2 separate regions of the Homo sapiens genome follow, and region 2 is linked to region 1. Evidence: fine-mapped expression QTL. A gene starts in region 1. The other region holds a variant in brackets. All regions are shown on one strand. Distances are between the middles of the regions. Region 1 holds the start of RBM18 (RNA binding motif protein 18). Region 2 overlaps RBM18 (RNA binding motif protein 18).

The links. PIP is the estimated chance that this variant, and not a neighbour inherited with it, causes the effect.
Region 2: its variant is the best candidate, but not a certain one, in a credible set for the expression of RBM18 in tibial artery (GTEx, PIP 0.55).

Annotation. Positions count from the first base shown.
Region 1 is chr9:122,261,496-122,266,879 of GRCh38, reverse strand. It overlaps RBM18 (RNA binding motif protein 18), which reads left to right and starts at 2,040. Exons shown (of 6, transcript NM_033117.4): 1 at 2,040-2,165; 2 at 5,372-5,384. It overlaps MRRF (mitochondrial ribosome recycling factor), which reads right to left and starts at 1,998. Exons shown (of 7, transcript NM_138777.5): 1 at 1,942-1,998. RefSeq lists enhancers at 1,581-1,740, 916-1,886, 1,309-2,508, 1,887-2,858.
Region 2 is chr9:122,237,542-122,242,925 of GRCh38, reverse strand. RBM18 (RNA binding motif protein 18) reads left to right here. Exons shown (of 6, transcript NM_033117.4): 6 at 883-5,304. The coding sequence ends at 1,042. Among named protein-coding and RNA genes, the nearest start is that of LHX6, 11 kb to the right of the region's middle. The variant A/G (reference allele first, on the strand shown) is at 2,930.

The DNA of each region.
Region 1 (5,384 bases):
GGATGGTCTCGACCCCCTGACCTCGTGATCCGCCCGCCTGGGCCTCCCAATGTGCTGAGATTACAGACTGAAATATTTTTTTAAACTACTTGAAGCACACATTCTTTTTCCAAAGTTGAGGGTCTCAAACGATTTCCCTGTTCTTCACAGAAGGTTCATTTTAATTTTGGCTAGATGACCAACCCAAAATCCTGGCTTATCTACTGTCCCAGCAACTCTTTTCAATGCAGCTGTATACTAGCTTATAACATAAGCACTTCTATGAGTGTGCATATACGCAGGCTCTTGCATATAAAATACTTTCACATGTACCATCTTAACTGGTTCTCATAACTAAAGAGTGATAATCACCACCCGTATTTTGCAAAATAAGAAAAGTGATCTTTCACTTCTCCAGGGCTCCCCCTGCTCCAGGGTCTTCAAACATGCCATTGAATCTCCTTGATGATCTTCCCTCACCTCTTTAACTGTTTGTCTCCGTTTTTATTTCAGATTTCAGCTTAACCATCACTTCCTCAGAGGACGGCTTCCTTGGCCATCTCCTACAGCCCAACTAGGTCAAGTGTCCTGTAGTCTGCTTTCATAGCACCCTTTACTTCATCATAGCACTTAATTCTTAACAATACAAGCTAACATTTGTGTAATTATTTGATTGTCTAATTCCCTCCATATGACTCTAAGTACTACAAGGACTAATCTATGATTTTCTTGTTCACTGCTGTATCCCCAGTACCTGGTACATTGCCAGAACACAGAAGACACTGTGAATGTGATGAATACATCAGTGAAAGTCCAGAAAGATAAATTCCTTATCCAGGGTAAACCAGAATCGGATGGGAATCTACCCTTACTATTATGGTAGGTTCTGGGCTTCCCAGCGTTGCCTCCACTGTCTCTGGTTTGCCAGATTTTTGCTTAGAGATAGTAGATGATGTTCTTCTCTAAATGCAGTACCAGGTAAAGAAAGGTACTTGTAGTATCTGACTATACACAGAATCATTATGCACCTGGCACGGCCAAAGAAGGAATGAGACACTTTAACAGGTAGAGAAAGGGCTTTTGCCTAAGAGTTAAGAGATCTGGATTCCAGTATGCCTACCTTATCACTCCCTGCCATCTGCCATTTAGATTCATAATCACACGTATTCAAAAAGCATTTGCGGCAGCTCTACCACTGACTTGTGACTTGTACCAAGTGATTTCTCCTACGTAGATTTTGTTTCAACCATAAAATGAAGGGGTCAGATCAGGTTTTCATTCTTTCCAACTATAAAGCTTTCCAAAATGGGGGGAAATGCAACAGTGTGGTTTAAAACAAAATAAAGGCACTAAACTTAGAGAAAACTCCGAGTCTTGGTTCCAGCACTTCCTAGGCACGTGACCTTAAATCGGTCAAACTCTCAGGACTTCCGTCTCATCTGTAAAACGTAAATGACAATACTATTTGTCAGGGTTAAGTAAATGGAGAAGGGCTACTGAAATGACAACTGTTTTGCCACTGGGTGGCACAGAGTGGTGGTTAAAAGTCCAGGCTTAGGAGTCGGATAGCCCTAGGTCTGAATTTAAGCGCCCTCACTTTCTGACCGCGTGACCCTGGTAAAATTACCTATGTGAGCTTCCGTTTCTTCATTATGGGAGATAATAATATCTACTCCTATGGGATTGTTCTGAAACTCAAACGTTCCCGTCAAGTGTGCGGCTACTCTTTAGTAAGTTCCTCCAGCATCCCCTAAATTCCTAGCTGGTAAAAGGAGCCCCGCCCCCACCCCATGAGACTCGCTCCAATGCCACAGGTCCCGCCCTCAGCCTTAAAGGTCAAGCTGGACTCGAACGGGTCGGGGACGGTAGTCTGGTCCCCTGAGGTCCCCCAGAGGTCCCTGAGTAAGGGTCTCTGGCACCCAGACCACACGCGCCCCTCGAGGCCCTGTCAAGGACACTCACCAGCTATCGCCCAGGTTACTAAGGAAAGACTCGTGCGACGGCGGCGACCGCAGCTGCGCGGACGTCGTGACGTCACGAAGCCAGGAGGCGGCGCAGGCTTAACGCGTCACGGGCGGCCTGGCAGCTGGCGGCATTGAGGCGGACGCGTCTAGAGGTCCGTCTGACCGCGGCGTCGGGACCTGGTTTCCGGGCATGAGCTGAGAGCACCACGCCGAGGCCACGAGGTGAGTTCGGCCGCGACATGTCCCTGCACCTCAGCGATGGGCCCGCTAAGAGGTCTTACAGGAGGCCGCCCTCGCAGGACTGCATCTCAGGCCCCGCCCCGGATTGTCCTGTCGCTGGCCCGGAAATAACAATCCGAGTAATGACCCTTCGCCTGTAGGAATTCGCAGCCAGAAATCGGGAAGCCAGGGTTCCAGGCATGACCCCACCGCTTGCTGTTAGGATCAGGTGTCTCTTCTTCTCTGGATTGCACTTTCCCCAGATGACTATTTCTGGCTTCCAGAGTTATTGCAGCTCAGCTGGAAAGACAAATGTAACCGCGTTTTGTGAACTCTGGTAGTCTAAAGGATTGTTGCTATTGCAAACGCAAAGCATTTTGATAGTCCCGTGCCGTCTTGATCTTTTATTACCCTTTACCTTTCCTCAAAAAGCCATATTCTGAGCTGTCACCAAAATTGTCTTATTTAAGACTCACAACGACCTCGTGAGACGACAAATTGTACCCATTCTAGGAAGGAAAAAGAAACTAAGTCTTCGAGTGGAGAAGCGGCTTGCTTCATTTAGTAAATATTAAGCACCAACCGTGAGACAGGCAGTGTACTTAAGTGCTAGAAATAGAACCGTGATCAAGATTGGCAAGGTCCTGTGCTGTGGGAGCTTACGTTCTAGTGAAGGAAATAGAAGAGGAAACATTAAGTAATACATTGAATTAGCATTTAGTAGGAGGAAAAAGATGGAAAAGTGGCTATGATATAGAATAACAAGGAACTCTGTTTAGGAAAGCTTTTCTATCGAGAGGATGCTTAAAGAAAGGTCATGTGACTTGCTAAAGGTGCAGTTACTAGGTGCAAAAGTCAGGATTTGAACCCAGACCCGCATAGCCTGCACTCTTACCAGTAAAACATGGTACCTTTTCGTGGTAATAAATATTAATAGCTATTGGTATTATTCCTGATTTTAGACATGAGAAAATCAGAATGTCCTATCATTCAAGTCCCAAATGTCATCTCCTTTAGAGAGGCCTTCCCTCCACTCAATCTATAGTCGTCGAGTCCCTGTCACATCACCCTGCTTAATTGTGTTTGTGGCATGTATCACTAATTATATCTTCTTTATTTATTTTGCTTTTGTTTTGTCCTGCTCCCCTTCCAAATACAAGCATCCAGAGGATAGGGACCTTGCTTGTTCACTGCTCTGACTCCAGTAACTGGATAAGTCCTAGATAATAGAAGCAGTGAATTTATTTTTTGAATGAATGATTTGTTTAAAAAGTAGGGGGAAAGGAAAGCAGAGGGAAGACAAAAATGTGTCTCCCCTGGGATTAAATTTATGTCTGTTTCACCTTTCTCCCAGGAGGTAAGAACAAGAGCTGTGGCTTTTTCATTTGTCTATTTCAGTACATAGCCCAGAGTTTAACAGTTCCTAGTTGCTTGACTTACATTGCTGAACAGATTAAAGATGTGAATGGGAAAGGAAGAAAAATACCCTCATGTGCAGGGTATTCAATAAACAATTACCTAGGGACTGCTGTGCTAGACTTTACAGGGTGTGCTGAGATGATTAAGAGGTAATGGCAGTTGTTGTGACTGCCTCCATGGTTCCTGTAGTGCTGACCTCTGAGGTACTTCTGGGTATAGGATATGTGTTCTCTAGCAGGGACTTCTGAACTCTGACACAGCCTGCTGTCCTCCCAGCCCCTAAAGCTTTATTTCACATCTGTCGTCTCATTTTTGGTCCTCGAAGCCTTAAGTTATAAACAGGGCAAAATTTATTAAAGATGGGTAAACTGAAGCTCAGAAAGAAATAACTTCCAGTGGAAATGCCACAGTTTGTGCTGGGCATGGTGGCTCACACCTGTAATCCCAGCACTTTGAGAGGCCGACGTGGATGGATCACTTGGGGTCAGGAGTTGGAGACCAGCCTGGCCAACATAGTGAAACCCTGCCTCTACAAGAAAATACAAAAATTAGACAGGCTTAGTGGCATGCACCTGTAATCCCAGCTACTCGGGAGGCTGAGGCATGAGAATTGCTTGAACCCGGGAAGTGGAAGTTGTAGTGAGCCGAGATCGTGCCACCGCCCATGAGTCTGGGCAACAGAGCGAGAGTCTGTCTCAAAAACAAAAAAAAAGAGAAAGAAAGAAATGCCACAATTTGAAACAATGTCTTCTGACACCAAGGTTTCTGCTCTTTCTACTGCTGTCTCCATCATAATCATAATCCTCTTTTCTCCTTGGCTGTGAGATGAGACATTTCAGGAACTAAGACTAGTAATAATTTAAGCTAACATTAATTGAATGCTTCCTAGGTGCCATGCACGGTTCTAAATGCTCTAGGTGTATTAACTCAGTGAATCTGCACTGTAATTTCATGAGGCATTATCCCCATTTTACAGATGAGGGAACTGAGGCCAACAGCTGTTAAGTAACTTGCACAGGGCTACATAGCTAGCAAATGGTGGAACTTGAATAACTAAGGAGGAAATTAGTCTCTTCTTCCTGGTCTGTCCCAAAAGAGTAAGCATGATAATAGCTAGTATTTATTGATTACTTACTGTTGTTAGATACAGTATTTAGTGATTTTTTTACTGTCTTTAATCTTCACAACAACTCTATAAAATAAGCACTATTATCTCTCTAGATAATGAGGAAACTGAGGCCTAGAAAGTTCAGGTAGTTCATCAAGTCACACAACCTGCTTTCAAACCCAGTTCTGTCTACGCACAGATTTCTTATATTGCCTCTTCTCTTTGCTATATTGCCTCTTCTCTTTGCTATATTGCCTCTTCCATGAGGAAAAGGGATGGAGTGCTGCTCTTCCCTACCCATCCCTTTTAATGCCATTAAGACTCTTCCTGGTGGTTTCCAAGGCTTATTTTGGGTGACAGTTGTTGAACTGAAGTATCATGTAGTAATAGAGACTTTGGCCTCCTGCCCAGTCAGCCTCTGGCTTCAGAGGAGGAAAACTTTAGTTTCTCCACACAGAACCACGCCCCTTTCACCTTAAATGGCAGCTTGTGTGCCCTGGCTGCCAGAGCAGTTGTCCCAAGGGAACTGGTTCTGGGGCCCTGGTTGTGGAATCACTGAGGCCTTTGAAGGACTGCCCAGAGGGCATGCCCTCCTTGAATAAATGTTTGTTGAGTTGAATTTGAAGTCTTGTGTTCACACATTGTTACTCCCCTCCTGCCTGAATGTTCACATTTCCTTTAGTATTTCATAGACA
Region 2 (5,384 bases), 24 kb after region 1:
GAACCTGGGAGGCGGAGGTTGCAGTGAGCCGAAATCACACCACTGCACTCCAGCCTGACGACACAGCGAGACTCCATCTCAAAACAAAAACAAAAACAAATTCAGATGGATGTGGTGGTGTGTGCCTGTAGCCCTACCTACTCACGAGGCTGAGGCAGTAGGGTTGCTTGAGCTCAGGAGTTCAAGGTTTTAGTAAGCTATGATGGCACCACTGTATTACAGCCTTGGTGGCAGAACAAGACCCTGTCTAAAAAAAAAAAAACAGTATAAGTAAAATGCACTGTGCCTGGCTCATTGTAAGCACTTTGTAAATGATAGTTTTTATTAACATGCATTCATCAGTAAAAAGAGATTGTATAGGATTTCCAGAATGTTTTTTTTCCATTTTTATTCAGTGATTCAGGTGAAACCTGGGCTTTTGAGTCAGTTTGTATTCAAATCTCTGCTCTATCGTTTACTTGCTGTGTAACATTGGGCAAATGAACCTTTCTGTGCCTCAGTTACATCATCTGCAAAATAAGGAATATAACCTATCTTATAATGTTGTTTTCAATTCTAAAAGAATTATTTTTAGTACCTACTCTCTGCCAAGCATTAAGGTGCTAACAGTGTCTGCGTCTGAGGATTAAATGTAGAACTATATGAAGTACTCCCAACAATGTCCAGGCTTATGTTAAAAACTTAATAGATGGCTCAGACTTGATCTGTTTCTTAGAATGAGAGAATTAGTTATTTCTGGCTTTTATATAAAATGTTTAAATGTCTGTAATTTAGTATCTTGTTGCGTCTCTAATATTCCCAAGAGGCTCAAGGAGAGGAACTGTACAGCTATTTTCTGAATATACCTAGGCCCACTCTGATCCTCTGCTATTATTTTTCCAGTGTCACTGCAAAGATAAAAGCCATTGAAGCAAAACTGAAAATGATGGCGGAAAATCCTGATGCAGAGTATCCAGCAGCGCCTGTTTATTCCTACTTTAAGCCACCAGATAAAAAAAGGACTACTCCATATTCTAGAACAGCATGGAAATCTCGAAGATGATGGTTGTGAATTACTGTAGCAGCAAAAGCAAATTGGTCTCCACACCTAAAATCGTCTGCCTGTGTACTTTGTAGATGTGAATGGTACTATTCAACGGAGCACAATCACATGTTAGCATTTGGTAACATAATGTTTTTGGATGTTCTTATGGATGTTTCTTCCCTAAACTATGTATGGAATTGAGCATCATCCAGAATAAATAGCGTTGTATCCCAAATTGTGATTTGAACCCTGGGATGCTCTAATTGGCTGGTTGGTTTGGATTTGTAACTCCAGAAACATTCTATAGTGTGCCAGAGCAAAAGGCAAATACACAAAATATTATTTAAATCAGGAAACTAAAAATATTAACATCTATTAAAAAATTGAGCATTTTTCTACGCTCGTGTGTCTTTTACAACATAAAGAAAAAGTAAAAGGCAGGGAGGGAAGTGAGAGACAGATTTTAAATCATGTTCAGAACTGTTGTTCCAGAATTTACTACGGCAATCCCTCCAACTGGACTGAAAAAGAGAAAGTTCTTGGCAAAAAGGAGCTGATTCTTTGAACAAATGTTGTAGTAATCTGTTTAAGAATTATGCTTATTGTTTCAAAATCCCAACTAGGAAAACATGGTGTATATCTTAAAATTGTTTGTGTTGACAAAACTAGAATCAAATTTAACATTTTATACCACAACACAAGTTCTATTTGGAAATTGAACTTTTATTCTATAGCAACCATTTTTTTCAAATCTAAATAACCATGCCTTCTATAATAACAAATGTTGCTATTATCATGGGACTTTTAAAATTACATTTATTGCATGGGATTGTTTTTATAGCATGAGAATGTTCTGTTTGGAATTATATCATGGTCAGTCTAAATAGAAAAAGCAAAATTTCTTTGAAAACCTAAACATTGCTATATTGGTCACTATCAAACATACAATTTTCTAATAATTGTGTAGCGGTCTAAGTGGAAGAGATTGCATTATCTTGTGCAGGACGAGGAGAGGACATGCAGTGGGCACAGAAAGTCAATGGAACAGATGCCACTGTGGCACCAAGACTGTAATGACTCTGTGTGGTAGGTAGTTTTAAAGGACTGCATGCCTTGGAAATGATTCTTCACTTGGAGAACATACTTGCCTCTAGATATGTTTGTCACTCTAAGCATCCTGAATATAACAATAGAGAAAGATAAGTCAACCAACAGATTTAGGGATGTGTTTCTTCAGCACATTTTGGTCATTTTGATGCCAAGTTTGACATACTGTTTAATTGGGCAGCACCTTTGCTCCTTTACCAGGTATGTATCACTTTGTTACTCCAGGTGCCATTCTTGGTGATGACAGAATGTTTATCACTATCGTTGTTAGCAAGAGGAAGCTTTCAATATAGGAACTTAACATCTTCCCATGAGTATAAATGAATTTAAGACATTTGAATCAAAACTTCAGTAGAGGGAGGTTTTAGAATTCATAAAACTGGTTTAAGGAAATTCTTTTTACTTTTCCCAAGGTTAATCTTTTTAAATATCTCTAGACATCAAATACTTTCTGTATGTATTAGCTGTGTCTGTCTATGATGCAAGTAACTCTCCTCCTATTTGGGGGATAGTTCAGAGAGGTAGGAGCATTATCTCCCATTTTTCTGGTGACTTCTTGGAGTATAGAATTCACCATTTTATCCGTAAGTCTTCAAAGGATTATGGTGGACTAGAACTTACATAGTGCAAAATAGTCTTCTATTTTTAATAGGAACTTAGAAAAAACTTAGAATTATATATAGAGTTGTTTCCTTTAGAAACCAGAGCTATTTATTTGTATTTAAAGCACTGTTTATTATTTGTACTGATTCTTATCCCTCTGTGTGAATAAATGTAAGACGGTGTCCGTGTGGTTAT[A/G]TCTTCTCTCGTTCACTTACTGGCATAGACTGCAGTTCTCTGACAGGCTTGTTTCCACTCAGGACTCTGGCCAGCATGTCCACGTGGGGTGCTTCTTCTAAGTGCCTTCTCTGCAGAGGGTTCTGGCTAGAGAGTCAAACTGAGAGGCAACTCTCTTTACCCTTTATGCCTGCCTACCTCTGTTGTTAGAGATGAGAATAGAGACCAGCTGTTTCCATTGCAAATGTCACTATTTGAAAAGAAGTTGTTAATGGAAATCTCTGCAAGTATCGTACTGTGTTTAGTCTCTCGTGGTAGAGATTTCAAAAGAAGAAATGTATGTATCCTAAATATGCTGAAAGCAGTCTGATGAAAGGTTTTTAAATTTCAGGTGTTAACTTGGTCAACTCTTTGTTAGGAGGTTGTCTGTACTTTAAGTAAAATTATTCTTTGGTTTACTGGTTATTTTGGTTTGCTAAAATTATGTCACTTATAATTTTGATTTATATACAAGAGTGAAGAATTGAAGGAAATACTGAGGAGAGACGTATGAACTATTTTCTTCATCTCAATTCCTATTTTATCAAATGCAAAATGTAATCCTAACCAGTTGATTTTCTATAATTGGTATCTTAGTACTGGGGAGGAGTATCACATGAGGAAAGATTTTTCAAAGCATGTCAGCTGAGGCACAAGAATCGCTTGAACCCAGGAGGTAGAGGTTCCAGTGAGCCGAGATTGTGCCACTGCACTCCAGCCTGGGCAACAGAGTGAGACACCGTCTCAAAAAAAACAAAAACAAAACAGGTCAAAAATCAGTTGCACAAGTTGTATGAAACCAGGTATTCTGCAGCTCTGTCTCTTGTTTATTAAGATATGCACAGTTTCTGAATCAACAAATATATCTGTGATTCTTTTATACTACTACATAAAAGAACAGGAGTAATTCTTGCCTTATAAATTAAATGTCAAACATTTCCTATATGTAATCATTTGTTCCTAAAATATGATTTAGTCCCAGCATGCTTATCCCTGTTTTCTCTTTTTCTCTCCAGCTCCTATCTAGTTCTTCAACAAATCCTGTCAACTCTACCTTCCAAATGCCTCTTGAATCCAGCCATCTCACCACCTCCAACACTACCACCATTTTTCTTAAAGCCACCATCATCTCTTCCCTGGACTATTACAATACCTTCCTAATTATCTCCCTGCCTCTGCTATTGATTCTTTAGGGTCCGTTTTCCACACAGTAGCCAAAGCAATTTTTAAAAAAATTATTTTAAAATGTGATTCTCTTCTTTGTGGCTTTCCATCACAGCCTAGAAAAAATTGAAAGATCTGTAAGGCCCTAATGACCTGTCCTTCACTACGTGTCTGACCCTATAGCCTACTGTTCTCCCCTTGTGCGGTGTACTGCAGCCACGTTGGCCTTCTTGCTATTCTTTGAATACAAGGGAGCTTCTACTTCAAGGCATTTACATTGGCTGTTGCCTTAGCTTAGAACGCTCTTTCTCCAGATAGCCGCAGAGCCCGCTCTCTCACCTGACTCATGTCTCTGCTCAAATGTTAATGATCAAGAGGCAGTCCCCGGCCTCCCTCTTAAAATTACAACCTGTCACTCTCCAATCCTTTCCTCACGATTTTCTCAAAAGCACTTACCGCTAACCAACATTATATCTAAATTTTTTTTTGTCTCTTTTTATTGGAATGTAAGTTTCATGTAAGCAGGAACTGTATATCACTGCTATACCCTCAGCATTTAAAACAATGGCTGTACATCATACATACTCAATAAATATTTGTTGGATAAACTACAAGAATTCTGGTATTTGAGAGCCAAAGGGCCTTAAGAGACCATCTCATATAGCCCCCTCATTGTCCAGATGGGGAAAACGGGAACCCAGAGAGACAAAGCGATTTGGCCAGGGTCACCTGGTTAATGGGAGAGCTTTAGGTAGAACCCAGGCCTGCAAACATCTAGTCCAGTGTTCAGCAAACTGGCCTCTGCCTCCTAATTTTGTATAGCCTACAAGTTAAGAATGATTTTTTTTTCATTTTCGAGTGGTTGAGAAAAAAAGTAAACAAAATATATATACTATATTGTGACATGAAAATGATACGAAATTCAAATCTCAGTGTATGTTAATAACTATTAGAACACAACCATGCCCAGGCATTTACATGTGGCTGTTTTCCCCATATAATAGAAGAGTTGAATAGTTGGCAATGAAGACTGTGGCCTACAAAACCTGAAATATATACTATCGGTCCCTTTACAGGAAAAATTTGCCAAACCCTACTCTAAACAATATTCCATGACTGGAAATGTGTTTTCTAAAATTCTCGTATTAATGCAGAGAATAAAAGCAACAGATGTCAGAATGATGTGCACCGAATATTGTTTCTTAGTCAATGTCTCTGACCCCTTACACATCTTTTGGGATAGAGAACTGGCTGTGCCAGCCCTAGTGGCATC